5 linked regions of the Homo sapiens genome follow. The protein of the gene in region 2 interacts with the protein of the main gene of each other region in a biochemical or structural test. Each region holds a gene or a part of one and is shown on either strand. Other genes may lie near its edges.

What was found.
Region 1: the proteins of PPP1R14A (region 2) and PRKCH form a complex in vitro, tested with the Homo sapiens proteins (one study listed by BioGRID).
Region 3: the proteins of PPP1R14A (region 2) and CSNK1G1 form a complex in vitro, tested with the Homo sapiens proteins (one study listed by BioGRID).
Region 4: the proteins of PPP1R14A (region 2) and CSNK1A1 form a complex in vitro, tested with the Homo sapiens proteins (one study listed by BioGRID).
Region 5: the proteins of PPP1R14A (region 2) and DAPK1 form a complex in vitro, tested with the Homo sapiens proteins (one large-scale study listed by BioGRID and IntAct).

Annotation. Positions count from the first base shown.
Region 1 is NC_000014.9:61,548,577-61,551,496, forward strand, and holds the end of PRKCH (protein kinase C eta type), read left to right. Parts: intron 1-1,108; coding exon 1,109-1,255; 3' UTR 1,256-2,400; downstream 2,401-2,920. UniProt on the Homo sapiens protein: Calcium-independent, phospholipid- and diacylglycerol (DAG)-dependent serine/threonine-protein kinase that is involved in the regulation of cell differentiation in keratinocytes and pre-B cell receptor, mediates regulation of epithelial tight junction integrity and foam cell formation, and is required for glioblastoma proliferation and apoptosis prevention in MCF-7 cells.
Region 2 is NC_000019.10:38,250,731-38,253,390, forward strand, and holds the end of PPP1R14A (protein phosphatase 1 regulatory subunit 14A), read right to left. Parts: intron 2,245-2,660; coding exon 2,164-2,244; intron 1,609-2,163; coding exon 1,576-1,608; intron 717-1,575; coding exon 588-716; 3' UTR 507-587; downstream 1-506. UniProt on the Homo sapiens protein: Inhibitor of PPP1CA. Has over 1000-fold higher inhibitory activity when phosphorylated, creating a molecular switch for regulating the phosphorylation status of PPP1CA substrates and smooth muscle contraction.
Region 3 is NC_000015.10:64,216,674-64,220,195, forward strand, and holds part of CSNK1G1 (casein kinase I isoform gamma-1), read right to left. Parts: intron 41-3,522; coding exon 1-40.
Region 4 is NC_000005.10:149,502,934-149,506,455, forward strand, and holds part of CSNK1A1 (casein kinase I isoform alpha), read right to left. Parts: intron 2,663-3,522; coding exon 2,514-2,662; intron 1-2,513.
Region 5 is NC_000009.12:87,696,847-87,700,368, forward strand, and holds part of DAPK1 (death-associated protein kinase 1), read left to right. Parts: intron 1-160; coding exon 161-358; intron 359-1,809; coding exon 1,810-1,948; intron 1,949-3,270; coding exon 3,271-3,391; intron 3,392-3,522. UniProt on the Homo sapiens protein: Calcium/calmodulin-dependent serine/threonine kinase involved in multiple cellular signaling pathways that trigger cell survival, apoptosis, and autophagy.

The sequences.
Region 1 (2,920 bases), on a different chromosome or scaffold from region 2:
AGACCTGGCGTGGTGGCTCATGCCTATAATCCCAGCACTTTGGGAGGCCGAGGCAGATGGATCACTTGAGGTCAGGAGTTTGAGACTAGCCTGGCCAACATGGCAAAACCCCATCTCTACTAAAAATACAAAAAAAAAAAGCCTGGTGTGGTGATGCACACCTCTAATCCCTGCTACTCAGGAGGCTGAAGTAGAAGGATTGCTTGAACCTAGGAGGTGGAGATTGCAGTGAGCCGAGATTGCGTCATGCGCTCCAGCCTGGGCAACTGAGTTAGACTTTGTCTCAAAAAAAAAAAAAAAAAAGTGATAGAGAAATATCATTGATTAAGGTAAGAGCAGTGAGATGTGTGATACTCACTTAGAAATGATCTTTGCAGCGTTTGTTTATACAGATATAAAATACTCAACTTTTAAAAACATACAGTGCACTTAATCACTAACAGCCTACTAGGCTGTTGGACACCAGGCACCCAGAGGTAAAGCCGTTCCTTCAATGGTCAGCCCCCTGCCAGCGCCCCTGGGATTAGGGAGAGCATGGCCTTCAGAGGCTGGAGCCTGTAGTCCTAACTGCACAGCTGGTCCAGCAGGGCGTAACGCATCTACCTAGAGAGTAAAATGACCAACAGTTGTTCCCTAAGCTCAGCACTTGCAAGAAATCTTTTGGGAAGATCTCTTCAAATGTCTAGAACTCTGCGCAAACAATAGGTAGGACAAGTGTGAACCTACCCAACCTCTGTTGACAAATACAGCTGCACACCCCTCAGCGAGGCCTGCTGTGAAATGCCACCTTGGTGAAATGAGAATAAAGGGTGAGTGAGCCAGCTGCTTTTGGATGACCAAATTAATTCTTAGCCTCCCATTAAGACAGGCCTGCTCAGCAAGATTTTCATGGGATTAGTGAATTGGTGGTTGCCAAATGCCATAATAATGCACCATGCAGTAGACTTGCTGTAAAGCACAGTTTCATCATAACAATAACTGTAAATAATGCTACTGAACAAGCTACAGAGCACTCCTCTGAACTCACTGGAATGGGCTATATCCCATGCAAGATGAGTAAGCCTCAAGCGCAAAAATCTCACCCTTGTTTCCCTTTTTTTTTTGGCAGAAATCCCGAGAAGATGTCAGTAATTTTGACCCTGACTTCATAAAGGAAGAGCCAGTTTTAACTCCAATTGATGAGGGACATCTTCCAATGATTAACCAGGATGAGTTTAGAAACTTTTCCTATGTGTCTCCAGAATTGCAACCATAGCCTTATGGGGAGTGAGAGAGAGGGCACGAGAACCCAAAGGGAATAGAGATTCTCCAGGAATTTCCTCTATGGGACCTTCCCAGCATCAGCCTTAGAACAAGAACCTTACCTTCAAGGAGCAAGTGAAGAACTCTGTGAAGGATGGAACTTTCAGATATCAACTATTTAGAGTCCAGAGGGAGCCATGGCACTAGAAATAGTTGATAATGAAATGAGATTTTATGAAGTATACCGCTCCACCTATGAGCGTCTGTCTCTGTGGGCTTGGGATGTTAACAGGAGCCAAAAGGAGGGAAAGTGTGAAGAATAAAGTAGATCTGAGAAATTCTGAGCCAATCAGGCTTCTTAATTCAAGAGACAAACCAAGACGTTCTGTCAACTGTGCTGTGCTCTTCTTTAAGCCAATGAACCCCAATTCCTGGCAGTCTACAAGAAGTCTCTTAATGCTAATGAAGAATTTAAAGGTCTTTTTAAGGAAATGAAGGGCTTTCCAAATAGAATGATTTACTCTGAAGAAACAAACAATGGTATCTCTGAAACTCACAACCTAAAGCCCAATCTTGAAAATATGTTGTGCACCAAGACGACTGCTTCAGCTTCTTCTCTTATCCTTACTTTCTTTAATAGATATTTATTAAACTGTCCAGTGAAAAGGTGCCACAATGCCCAGTATTGTAAACAACAGGTTTGCATTCATGAAGCTTTCATTCATTCTGGAGTCTACTAATTTACCTGAATGGTGTTTGCATTCTGTGAAATGCCTCTCCACGTTGCATATGTCACACTTTTGTCTGCACATAACTCTTTTTTCACAAGAAGGGTCACTGCCACAACAGCACAGTCAGCGGGTGAATTACAGGTGCCTGCTGCCTGCCTACCTGGGTAATCTGATCTTGTCTGTATCGCCGTGTGCTCATCACTGAAGAATTGCAGGCCACTCATGTCAGTGACCAGATTTGTGGCTTATAAACATTAGCAGTTTATTTATGTTTTAAGATGCAAAGATGTGTGTTTGATATTCACTTTAATAATTAGAAATGGATCTTGTAAACAGGGCATATATCAAAGATGACCTTATAATATGTACCCGAATATACAGTTCAAGAATTTTGTCTGACTGGAAATAAATGCATTTTGTAGCAAAAGGAAGTGTTTTGACTAGAATGATTTGTCTCCTTCCCACTAAGACAGTAGATTTCCAATCAAAATAAAACCTTGAGCAGAATGGGTAGAACTCAACTCACAGAAAATTCCTGAGAGGAGAGGTTGATGTAAGTTCTTCTGTGATTCTCTGAAGTAGATGTGGCCTGTCTCTTACTGACCAAAACTTCTGTCCTGAATGAGGGTGATGACTGCTAAGCATAGCTGTAACAGACCAACCCTCAAGATCTCAGGGGCTAGACACCATAAATGTTTATTTCTCATTCACATAAAGTAGCATGTAAGTTCAACAATCTTCCTCCATCTTATAACTACACTATCTGGAAAATGTAGCTTTCCAAAGTCTCCAGAGCAAGGAAGAGACATGGAGGGGGCGCCGGCTGCCTGCCTGCCTCTCCTAGGAGGGACACACCTCACCTCTTCTCACAATGACTGGCTAAAACATGGCTTCCCTCTAACTACAGACGGGATAGGGGAATTATAGAGCAGCTGAGGAGTAGCTGG
Region 2 (2,660 bases):
CTGATTCTCACACTCAGGCCCTTCTCCCCCCATAGTGTGTGAGCACCTTGATGCCAGAGACCATCTTCCTCTCATCTTTGCAGCCTCAGTACCAAGGGCCATTATAAGCACAGCGCAGATTTCATGGAGTGGCTGAATGATTTGTTTGCTGTGTGATCACCTGTACTGAGTCAATATCGGTCACCTTTGGTCATGAGCATGCCCCTTGACCCAGATTCCTGCAGGAGCCTGCATATAGGGGCCCTGCTTGCTGGGACTGGGGATGGGGGTGGGGTGGGGAGTTCAAGGGAAGGCAAGGTCTAGGATATAAATCCCAAGGGCGTGGGCTCAGCAGGGCCCGTTCTCATGCTTTCTGGCCCGGGAGGAGTGATTCTCCATCTGGCAGGCCCAGCTGCAGTGCTGGGACAGGGACATGAGCAGAGGCCACAGGAGGAGAGAGGGAGGTTGTGGGGGGAGCTCGGGGAAGCCCATGGTAACCCGGGGGGAGGAAAAACAGCCACACAGTGTTATTGTTACAGAACCATTAAATACAACTTATACACAAGCAAGCTGGGCGGCGTCCGGGGGGCAGGGAGAGTGCAAGAGGGTCAGGGGTGAGCAGTCCGGGCCCGGTCCTGGAGGGGGCTGAGGCTGCCGTCGTGGGAGGGGCTTGGCTGGCGGAGGCCGGGCTGCCTGTGGAGGCCTTGAAGCTTTGCCAGCAGCTCCTGGATGAAGTCCTGAGACAGGGTGGGGGAGCTGAGAACATGGGAACAGTGCGGGGGCACCCTCTGCCCCTGTCCAGCCCAGTCCCTGACCTGGGCGCCTCCTCCTGTTCTCTGATTGTGGGGTGGGGGGAGTTAGGGGCGGAGGCTATAGACATAGAGAGAAAAGTGAGCCGGGAGAAAGACAGAGATGGGGAAAGGGCGATGGGAGGGATGGAGAGAAAGAGCTAGGAAGAGAGATAGAGATCCAAGGAGACAGATACGGAGTGGGGGAGGGGGAGAAACAGACACAGAAACAGAGAGACATGTAGAGATAGAGACAGAGAGAGACATAAGGACAGAGAAAGAAACAGAGACATGTGGAGACAGGTCCCCAGAGATAGATCCAGGGCGAACAGAAATGCAATGACGTTTGTCCCTAGAGCTAGTTGGAGAAACATGAATAGTTTTCCCTTTTAAAGCAGGGAAGGAAGTGGGAGGGGTTGGGCCGCTCAGCTTCAGGGCCTGGGAGGATGGAGGGCCCCCAGAGGTGGGGAAGGGAGCCCGGGGTGGCGGAGGCAGTGACAGGGGAGGACAGAGGGAGACTGAGCCCGAAGGCTGGTGGCCAAAGGACAGGCACAGGAGAGGCAAAAACAGGGCAGATGGGGGAGGACAGAATGGAGCCCCCTCAGCAGATGGGGGAGAGAGGGAGAGAGACAAGTAGGAGGACAAAAGACACCCCTGGAGACCAGAAAGAGCTGCGGAGGGCAGGTTGGGGCCGGGGGTGGTGGGGCCGGGTGGTGTTCCCCAGAGACCCTTCTGCCAGCTTCTTCCCCCTCCCCCATCAGAGTACTTGGGGCCAGAACAGGGAGAGAATGAGGGAGAGAAAACTCACCTCGACAGGTTTCCCACATGACTTCAGGAGTCCCTAAAACCCCCAACCAAGAACAAAACAAAACAGTAAATGACTAACACCTACTCCCCTCCAGCCCCTTCCCTTTCCCAAAAGGCCCCAGCAGCAAGACAAATGGAAGTCAGACTCCAGGGTGGACTGCCCACCAAGCTTCAAGAGAGGAACAGAGCCCAAGGGGCATGTGGATCGACTCAGGGCAGGGGTGAGTTACTAGATCCAGAGAGGGCGAGAGGGTCACACAGCACTTCCCTCCTCTAAAAAGGTATAAGCCATAAGCAAAGACATGGCTGCCAAACTGCCTGGGTTCGATGCCCAGCTCTGCTCCTTCTGAGCTGTGTGACACTGGGCAAGGGATTCAACCTCTCTGGGCCTCATTTTCCTCATGGGGAAAATGGAGCTCACACTAGCGCCTGCTTCGGAGGGTTTTGTGAGGGTTAAGTGAGTGAATACATGTAAAGCCATCACACCAGTGCCCGGCATCTAGTGAGCACTCAGTAAACACGTGAACTATTGCTATTATTTTTAGGGAGGTGCAAAGTGGGAGGCTGGGGGACACGTCCCCCCACCTACCTGGATTTTCCGGCTTCTCTCCTCTTCACTCTCTAACTCCAACAATTCATCAATGTTGATCTCATCGGGCATGTCTGCCTCCTAGGGCCAGGGAGGGAGGGGTGCTTAGGATCCCCTTCCCTCCCTCCCTCGCCTTTGTCCAGGGCTCTGCAGGAGCCCCACCGGCCCCAGGGCCCAGCTGGCGGGTTCTGGAGCATTAATGTGGCAGTCCGGGACAGCACTGCCAAGACGGGACATCTGGGTGTTGGGGGGGAGGGGTGACAGATGGGCTGAGAGAGCCCCGGGGCCCTGTACCAGCCCGATGCCTGGGCCCATGGGCCCCGGGAGCCTCGGGGCTGGCACGGGTCTCTCGCCTTGGCTCTAGTTCCCACAGAGGAAAACAGGCCTAGTGGAGTCCTGGAATGTCAGATTCTGGGATTCGGGAGAGGAGCTGGCTTCTGCCCTTTCAAGGAAAAGTCTTAGCACTAGGTGCAGGGGAGGAGAGGCTGGCAGCCAGC
Region 3 (3,522 bases), on a different chromosome or scaffold from region 2:
CCACATGGTCCAAAGTAATACACCTGTGGGAGACCTTCACCTGAAAGCAGAGGGGAAATGGGGGTATACAGTGGGAGACACAAAAGCCAAAATATGAGATAACAGTATTAGCACTGAATAAAATATTTTTAAAAGTACAATTTGTGAGATTTCCATTTTCTTTCATAGTCCCTACTGGAAACTCAAACTGAGCACAACAGCTTCAATGGGAACTAATAATGATGGGAAAGGCTAAGTCATTGCACAATACGTTCAAATGAGTAGTTATTTAATACCACAGTGCCAAAAACATTTCCACTGCTATAAGATAGAGAATGGTCCCTGATCCATTGGATCTTCCCAAAAGGATGCCTGAAAGTGCAGTATCATAAAAGGCTCAAAGGATGGCTCACTGAGCTCAAAGGCCAGGCTAACATAACTTGTTACATTATCTGGTTCATGAGCACTCTCTATGCTTACTGCCATAGCCACATGGGCTATTTGGAACTGTTGCCCTATGGACAACTCAGACTGAAGAGGCAAGGTCACAGAGCGTGCAGCCTGGCCCCAGGCCAGCACAACTGGCCCTCTTTTCACAGGGAGTCTCTATAGTTTTTTGTTTTTTATCAGCTGGAGAAAAGTCAACAGACACTTAGTGTTTGGTTGCTGATAAGTGCTGATGAAAGGAAAAGGGGGAAAAAACACAAGGCTGGGTTTTCCCCAGATTTGAAATTCATAACTATTAAGAAGCCAAAATCCAGACTTTCTCACCTAAGTGGCAAATTGTGAATGAATTTCCTTTATAAAGTGCATTGTAAATATGAGGCATTCACTAAATATATAACTGGTACCATGAGAATAGTAGATATTAAATAGGATTACAGACGCCAGGCGCAGTGGCTCATGCCTGTAAGTCCAGCACTTTGGGAGGCTGAGGTGAGTGGATCACAAGGTCAAGAGTTTGAGACCAGCCTGGCCAACATGGTGAAACTGTCTCTACTGAAAATACAAAAATTAGCTGGGCATGGTGGCACGCACCTATAGTCCCAGCTACTCAGGAGGCTGAGACAGGAGAATCGTTTGAACTCAGGAGGCGGAGGTTGCAGTGAGCTGAGATGGCGCCACTGCACTCCAGCCTGGGTGACAGAGCGAGACTCCATCTCAAAAAAAAAAAAAAAAGATTATAGAACACTTAAAAAATTATCTGGTTTCACAGAGCAGAAACATTCCCATCTTATATATTTATGTATATAGTGGTCTACAGTTGCATATGTTGTAGATTATTGTTTGCTTCTGCCTCTAAGTGTTTTAACTTGAGACAAGGTCTCAGTGTTACCCAGGCTGGAGTGCAGTGGTAAGATCTCGGCTCGCAATCTCTGCCTCCCGGACTAACGCGATCTTCCCAGCTCAGCCTCCCAAGTAGCAGCTGGGACTGTAGGCTCGCTCTACCACACCAGACTAAATTTTTGATTTTTTATAGAGATGGGGTCTCACTATGTTACTCAGGCTGGTCCTGAACAACTCCCAAGCTCAAGCAATCCTCCCTCCTTGGCCTCCCAAAGTGCTGGGAATACAGGCATGAGCTACTGTGTCCAGCCCCATTCCCTTTTTATTTCTATGGGTGGGATATAGACAGATGTACATCTAACACATACTTCTCTCGAGGGTAGGTCTCACATATTTGGAATTAATAACTATTTCATATATTGTATTAGTCTATCTTGATTCATTAAATCCTAAACAACTTTTTTTTTTTTTTAGACAGAGTCTCATTCTGTCACCCAGGCTGGAGTATAGTGGCGCAATCTTGGCCCACTGTAACCTCCGCCTCCTGGGTTCAAGCAATTCTTGCGCCTCAGCCTCCCAAGTAGCTGAGATTACAGGCATGGTGTCCACCAATTTTTTTTTGCATTTTTTGGAGAGACAGGGTTTTGCCATGTTGGCCAGGCTGCTCTCGAACTCCCGACTTCAAGTGATCCATCCACCTCAGCCTCCCAAAATGCTGGGATTACAGGCGAGAGCTACCATGCCCGGCCTAAATCCTAAACAACTTGAACATTTTCTTTAAATATGTTTATTCCTAGCTTGTATCCTCTAACATATGTTACTCCTGCTAGTTCAATAAATATCTGTTCAATTGTTTTTGTTGTTGTCTTGATTCTCCCTATCTCCAAAAGAGAAAAGGATTTAATTTGAAGTGTTTTTTTTTTTTTTTTTTTTTACATGGAGTTTCACTCTGTAGCCCAGGCTGGAGTGCACTGGCGCCATCTCGACTCACTGCAACCTCCGCCTCCCGAGTTCAAGCCATTCTCCTGCCTCAGCCTCCTGAGTAGCTGGGATTACAGGTGCACACCACCACGCCCAGCTAATTTTTGTATTTTTAGTAGAGACAGCGTTCCCCCATGTTGGCCAGGCTGGCCTCAAACTCCTGACCTCAGGTGATCCGCCCGCCTCAGCCTCCCGAAGTGCTGGGATTACAGGCGTGAGCCACCACACCAGGCCCCAAAGAGTCTTTTTTTCCCGGTTGTTTTGAAGAAGTCATTTTTCAGCTTTTTAAAAATATATAAAACCCAACTAGTTGTTTCCAATGACTCCTGCTGAGACATCCAAAGCAGAACACTCTGTCCTAGAGATTTACTGCTTTTATTAATCAGACACATGGTAAATGCAGTTTGGGGATCTTTTAAATTTATGTCCTATATAAGGATTTAATGCCACTAAAATGTTATTTTCCTAATATAAATATTATATTCTTCAAAGCAGGTTGTGGCAGCGCCTGTTGTTTGCATGCCCAATATCCATTCTCCCTCTCCTTTTTTCTTTTGAGACAGTGTCTCACTGTGTCACCCAGGCTGGAGGGCAGTGGTATGACCATGGCTCACTGCAGCCTCGACCTCCTGGGACCAAGCAATCCTCCTGCCTCAGCCTCCCAAACAGCTGGGAGCACAGGCACATGACACCACATCGGGCTAGTTTCTTAAATTTTTTCCAGAGATGAGCTCCCACTATGTTGTCCAGGCTGGTCTTGAATTTCTGGGCTCAACTGATCCTCCTGCTTTGACCTCCCAAGTGCTAAGATTACAGGGATGCCTCTCCCCTTCTTTTTTTCTTTTTCTTTTCTTTTCTTTTTTTTTTTTTTTGAGACAGAGTCTCGCTCTGTTGCCAGGCTGGAGTGCAGTGGCACGATCTCAGCTCAATGCAACCTCCACCTCCTGAGTTCAAGTGATTCTCGTGCCTCGGCCTCCCAAGTAGCTGGGATTACAGGCACGTACCACCACACCTAGCTAATTTTTAAATTTTTAGTAGAGATGGGATTTCGCCATGTTGGCCAGGATAGTCTCGATCTCCTGACCTCGTGATCTGCCTGCCTTGGCCTCTCAAAGTGCTGGCATTACAGGTGTGAGCCACCACGCCCAGCCTCCCCTTCTTTTAAAATAACATAACTTTTTTTTTTTTTTTTGAGACAGAGTCTTGCTCTGTTGCTCAGGCCGGAATGCAGTGGCGTGGTCTCAGCTCACTGCAACCTCCGCCTCTTGGGTTCAA
Region 4 (3,522 bases), on a different chromosome or scaffold from region 2:
AATTTTTGTATTTTTTGTAGAGATGGGTTTCCACCATGTTGGCCAGACTCTCGAACTCCTGGCCTCAAGTGATCTGCTTGCCTCAGCCTCTCAAAGTGCTGGGATAACAGGCGTGAGCCACTGCACCCAGCTGAGTTATTCCTTAAATAAAGAACCACTATAGTGGACCTTAAGAGACTATGCTTTTAAATGCCCTTGTTACTTAGAGACTGGAAGCAGGAATAACATAGAGCAATTGTTTTCAAACTCCAGAATTCCTAGGAGATTTCTTAAAGGATAACTTGCTGGGCTGGGGGTAGAAGTTAGGGGAATATGTTCCTCATGCTTATTTCATGCCTAAGGCCCGAAGGCCAGCTACATTTTCATGGTTTATGAGAGTTTCATGTAAGATTTGTCTTGAGCACAAAGTTTTGTATTAAAAAAGAAAAACAGATGTTTTCAAGATGTCAAAGAGCAAAAAGAAGTCTGTGTTCTGTGAAATGGCACTTTTCAGTAGCAATACAGATGTACTGCCTTGGAAGTGTATTTCTAAAAAGCAGTCAATGACATGTGATGTGTTTTATGAAAAGCCTAATTTTTCAAGTCCATGTTTATGTGATAATTTGTATGACCATTGTCTCTAATGTCACTATAAAATTTTTAAAAGATTTTAAGTTGCTTTTACAAAAAATAGCTACAATACAAAATAAGGATTAAACAAGTTTAATTACAGTTCTTTCCCCCGCCCCAATGAAACTAACTCAGTGGATCCAACTTCTCATCTTTAAGACATGGATAGGGCAGGACACAAATTCTGCTTGTTTATTGAATAAGAGACACACAGTAAACTAACAAAGAAACTAACTTAAAATAAGGTAATTCTTTCTGAAATCTGCTGAATGCCTGAAGTAAAATGTTCTAGGTCAGAAGAGATTTCAATCTAATTTTAGTTATAGAAACTGCAACTTGTGATGATCCTATTATCCCAGCTAGCTTTCGGCAAAATTGGTTTCATTTTGTGAGAAAAAGCAAATATACTATAGGTTGTCAGGTGTAACAAGTCCTTGGGTTAGAGACTCTGTTTGGTCTTACCTAAAATGGTAGGACTGTTTTTCAGTGACATTAGCTACATAACACATTATGAACTTCTTGGCACTATGATTAGTTATACGATGATTAAAACACTCAAAAGGAGCAACTATCCCAACTGAGATGCAGAGGCAGAGCACTGTGTGAACATTAGGGTTTGCTATCCTGAGTTTACATGTCACCATCTGAAAAACCCAACGACAATAAACCTTCAACTTTGAATCCTTCCCAAATACAAAAACATGGAATAGAAGCATCTCAACTTCATTCCTAACAGATGAGCTGCTGGGATGAGGATGACATCAGTTAATAATATTTCTTGAAAAGTATCTTCAGATTAGAATCTATTTTTAAATTATAAAATAGTTTAAATACAACACTAAAAATGTGAAGCAAAGATTAATCTATAAAGGCCAAGTTCAGACTAGGGCAGTATTCAGAAATTTAAAAATTAGAAACCAAGAGCCAAATCTTACTTGCCCACTACTTCCAGAAAGTAAGCAGGTATCAGGAGGTAAGCCCCAGAAATGGGAAAAGAAAGACAAAACATGAAAATGGGAGTTAAACTGTATAGCAACAGTGTGCCCTAACAGTTCTACTCCTTACAGGCAGTAAGAGTGCCAAAGAAAAGTAGAAAGGAAATAAGACTAGCGGTTTCAATGGCATTTGCCCCAGTTACCTTCAATTTGCAAGGCCTGGCTGCAGACTTCAATTCCACATTAAACCCTGGGAGCCTGATATTTGCAACATTGTGAAAAATCAAGCCAAAAACAAAGAAATCGTTTTGAAATTAAGATCATACGTAAACTGCAAATAAAAGAATTATTTTTGTGACTAGAAAAGATGTGCTGAGCTTTGCATTTATTTGAGCATTTAAGAGAGAAAATGAGATGCTCTGCAACTGAGAAGATAGACACTTTGGGGGTAATGCCAAACTCACCTCTTGAAATTACAACATGTTCACAATTTTCCATTTTAAATGCTAAAGCATTAACATGCAAAATAAAAAATCTTAACATTGTTAGTCTGAAATAAAGTCAAAATATGGCTAACCAAATTCATTATTAGAAATCAACAAGTGTTAGGTCTAGGATTTTGGATTGATTGATTATATTATATTCCCAACACCAAATTTTTGGAAAGGGGGTTAATGAATGAGTAAAAAAGATGCAGTTGTTAAAAAAATGACCCAAAATCCCAAGAGAAATGATATAAATATACACACATATATGTATATACAAATACATATACATATATATGAACAAGGACATTTGGGTTTAAAGTTAGTAGTCAAATTTTCCAAGGACGTCTTTTTTTTTTTAACGCAGAGCCAAATTTTTATGTATTTTAAAACCACCTCCTTGATCTAACACTGTTAGAAATGAATTACCCAATTTTGTATTCAATTTTTTCCCTGTAACGTCACTTGGTTCTTGGCTACTAACCTTTCATGTTACTCTTGGTTTTGTCAGTTTGCTTGCCTGTGGGGGTTTGGGCCTGCTGACCCTGCCCACTGGAAGAGGCTGCCTGCTGTGCTGCTTTCTGCTTTAACATTGTCCAATCAAATGTGTAGTCATATTGATGGTTCAGGGTCCTGGAACACATAAAATATTTTATGTTAATCCTTTAATAACAGAGTCCAGTTATATAACCTACTAACTTTTTAAGACAGTGACAGCATTTCTTTACACAACGAATATTTCCTCAAGTGTGGCAGCTTCTAAAATATTTCTTATTATAGATGAAAAAGGCAGCATGAAAACTGAAACATGAAATCAAGCTGTCAGTTATCTAGGGGAATACTCATAAGAGGAGGTACTTCCTAAAAACAAGTAAGAGTAAATATTCAACTGGAAGTTTGGGAATAAGATGTCTGACTGGTACCTGGGGAAGACACTTTTCTGGGGTTAAAAGATTACCTGAATTCTCTCTTTTTTTTTTTGAGACCATGTTTTGCTCTTGTTGCCCAGGCTGGAGTGCAGTGGTGCAATCTCGGCTCACTGCAACCTCCGTCTCGCAGGTTCAAGCAATTCTCCTGCCTCGGCCTCCTGAGTAGCTGGGATTACAGGCGCCTGCCACCATACCCAGCTAATTTTTGTATTTGTAGCAGAGACGGGGTTTCACCATGTTGGCCAGGCTGGTCTCGAGCTCCTGGCCTCAGGTGATCCACCCCCATCGGCCTCCCAAAGTGCTAGGATTATAGGTGTGAGCCATTGCACCTGGCAGATTACTTGAATTCTTTGTTTTTCTCTTTTGAGACAGAGCCTCATTGTCACCCAGGTTGGAGTGCACTGGGGGGATCTCAGCTGACTGCAACCTCCGCTTCCCAGGTTCAAGAGATTCTCCTGCCTCAGCCTCCCGAGTCGCTGGGATTAAAGGTGAGCACCACCTCACCCGGCTAATTTTTGTATTTTTAGTAAAGATGGGGCTTCACCATGTCGGGCAGGCTGGTCT
Region 5 (3,522 bases), on a different chromosome or scaffold from region 2:
GAACAAACCATACCCAAGTCATAACAAGATGTATACACATACAGAAGAATGCCATAAGTATCACTATGCCTACTTCGAATCCGTGGAACGCTAAGAGAATTTATGATTGAAATTTGGTTAGTGGTGTTTCACGATTGTTATCATTTTTCTTTTTCTGTAGGAGTTGGCGATTTCAGCGTGTGGGAGTTCTCTGGAAATCCTGTGTATTTCTGCTGTTATGACTATTTTGCTGCAAATGATCCCACGTCAATCCATGTTGTTGTCTTTAGTCTAGAAGAGCCCTATGAGATCCAGCTGAACCAAGTGATTTTCTGGCTCAGTTTCCTGAAGTCCCTTGTCCCAGTTGAAGAACCCATAGGTGAGCTAAGTCCCTGCAGGCCAGTGATGTCCTACCTGTGGTTGGCCAGGAATCGCCTCCTCCTTCCAGGCTTCTGCCCTGCTCCTGCCACTGCTGCTGCTGGCCTTGCACCAGGCCATGAGCAGATCCCACCGTTTGTGGCTAACAGCTGAGCCAACTTCCTTTCTCCTTCCTGCTGGGAGACTTCCACTCTGAGAAGCTTCATGAGGCTCAAGTGTTCGTGGTATTCTGCAGGCTGTTTTTGTTTCATGATTGCATATTCCTGCCTCAAAGGCCCACTTTGAACAATCCTTTGAGAGGCATTTCTCACTTTTTTTCTACACTTGAGAGCCATGGTCATTGTATGTTGGGTGCAAAATGGAATCCCTGCTTGGATAGCTACTGCACCTTTACCTAAAGGGTACAGAATTAGTCAGCAGAATGAGCAGTTCTTCATCCTGTAATTCCACTAAGAAACAAAGAAAGAGGCCGGGTGCAGTGGTTCACGGCTGTAATCCTAGCACTGTGGGAAGCCAAGGTGGGCAGATGCCTTGAGCTCAGGAGTTCAAGACCAGCCTGGCCCACATGGCAAAACCTCATCTCTACAAAACATACAAAAACTTAGCCAGGTGTGGTGGCATGTGCCTGTAGTCCCAGCTACTTCAGGGGCTGAGGCAGGAGGATTGCTTGAACCTGGGAGGCTGTGGCTGCAGTGAGCCAAGATCGTGCCACTGCACTTAGCCTGGGTGACACAGTGAGACCCTGTCTCAAAAAAAAAGAGAGAGAAATGAAGAAAGGGAGCATGTTGACTGAATGTGTTATCTTAACTTTATTCCTAGAGGAGAGGATAACATGAAATAAACTTCCTTTGGTCTTTGCCCACAACAAGAGAAGCAGCCTTCCCTGGTGAAATGCAATACTCAGCAGTCAATTTTTTTTCTTTCCGGAAAAGCATATAATACAAGGAGTTGGGCTTAATGCCCCTCTGGGTACTGCCAGTTTTGCCTCTTTCTTTGTCCTTTTTTTCCTTTGTTTTAAACACTCCCCGAAGTGGGAGGCTCTTTGTGTGACTTGCAGGTCATTTACCTCTGACCCATCTCTGTGGTGTTGCTGCACTCAGGCGTCTCTCTTTGGTCTTGTAAGCGGCATCCCTTTTGTCACAGGTTAAATTTTCCCTCTCCTTGTAAGTAGGGGCTATTTGGAGACTTGAGAAACTGCCTTTAGTCATTCTGGTCCACTTTGAGCAATTTTCCTTGTGGCCTAGGAGATAGGCTTATCCTGTCGTTGGCCATGCTGGGGCCTTCTAGGGTCACAGTGCACAGCAGGCGTGGGGCCTTCATCTCTGTGGCATGTTGCACTTGTACCTGGAGAGTCGGCCTGGGCATGAGGCCAACACACCGCCCTCACCTGGGCAGGAGAGGCAGCCAGGTAGGAGGACCCACCCCCTGAAGCAGTTCCCTCTCTGCCCCCAGCCTTCGGTGGCAAGCTGAAGAACCCACTCCAAGTTGTCCTGGTGGCCACCCACGCTGACATCATGAATGTTCCTCGACCGGCTGGAGGCGAGTTTGGATATGACAAAGACACATCGTTGCTGAAAGAGATTAGGAACAGGTGAGGGGCAGCCACTTAGTCTCCAGCTCACGGGTAGCCTCCTCTCCCTGAGAACTGAAGCAGAGGTGTGAAAAGTACAAAGGAAGTCTCATGAACCAGAGAAAGGTTTTAAAGGTCTTTCTTTCTTGGTCAACTCTTTTCTTGTACAGGTCTTGTATCCCTTATTGGAAATGATCGGCTTTAGAAGTGTTTCTGATTTCTTATTTGTTTGGATTTTAATATATGTACATATACATAGCAGTTGAACATCCTAGTTCAAAAATTCTAAATCTGAAATGCTCTAATAACCATTTCCTTTGCATGTCTTGTCTTTGCCCAAAAGGTTTTTGGATTTTGGAACATTTCAGATTTCTGGATTAGGGATGCACAACCTTTATTTTTCATTTTTATTAAAACAATGAATCCACATAGTAAATCAAATACAAATGAAGAGCACGTGATGAAAGCAACCCCCTTCTTTCTACCTCCCAGCAACACTGCCCGGAGGTGACTTCTTTTAGCTGTTTAGATTTCAGTACTCAGTATTCAGTGTTCAGAAACACTAATCAGTATGTCTTACAATATAAGTTGCAACCTACTAGTGAGTCTTAAAATTCATTTAGGAAGTCGTGGCCAATTCTTTTTAAAATGGGATGGAATGGAATGGGATAGGATAGGACAGGAAAGGACAGGACAGGATAGGATAGATCAGATGTCAAGTATTATTTTGTAAAACGTTTGTTTCACTGATGAGTATGGGTATGTACAGGATTATGATGTAAAATATATGTTTTTACTCAGAGTCTATCAAAACAGTTTGAACCTGCAGCTTTCTATAATATGCTAGTATCTCTGATCTTGCATTATCAACTTGAGACATTTATCTATTGTCTTGAGACACTATATCTGTTGCCAGATATAAAAATGGGGCTTCTATTAATATTTTTAGGTCAGTGATGTAGCTTTTGCATTCACACCTCTATTCTTAGTCCCTCCACTTTCCACAGTATCTCTTGTCCTCACTTGTAAGGTGCGAGCATTAGGCCTCACCTTTCCTGCCTCGGGAGAAGCTGACATCTTTCCATGCTGTGCTCCTGCTGCTTCATGCAAACCTGAAGGTCCCGCTCCTATGACTCAGACTATATGCCAGTTTCCCCAAGTCTCTGCACCCACTGTGATGAGGCAGAGCCCACCAACAGCAGGGATGGGGAGGGGCCTTTGCAAGGACACCAGAACTTTCCTTCCCTCCTACCAGCCTCTTGAGCCAGTAGGAGCCTGGCCCCTCCATTAAAAGGCCTGGGGACATTGACTCACTGCTGAGGAGGCTGCTGCTCTTCCCTTAGGTTTGGAAATGATCTTCACATTTCAAATAAGCTGTTTGTTCTGGATGCTGGGGCTTCTGGGTCAAAGGACATGAAGGTACTTCGAAATCATCTGCAAGAAATACGAAGCCAGATTGTTTCGGTAAGTACACCATGGAAAGAGCCTGGACCCCTTTGTACTTCCTTCCTGGTTTGCCTCTGGTTTCAGGGAACTGCTTCATAGTAGGACCCAGTAAGAGGTGTCTGCCTGGACATGTCTTTATCCTAGTGCCC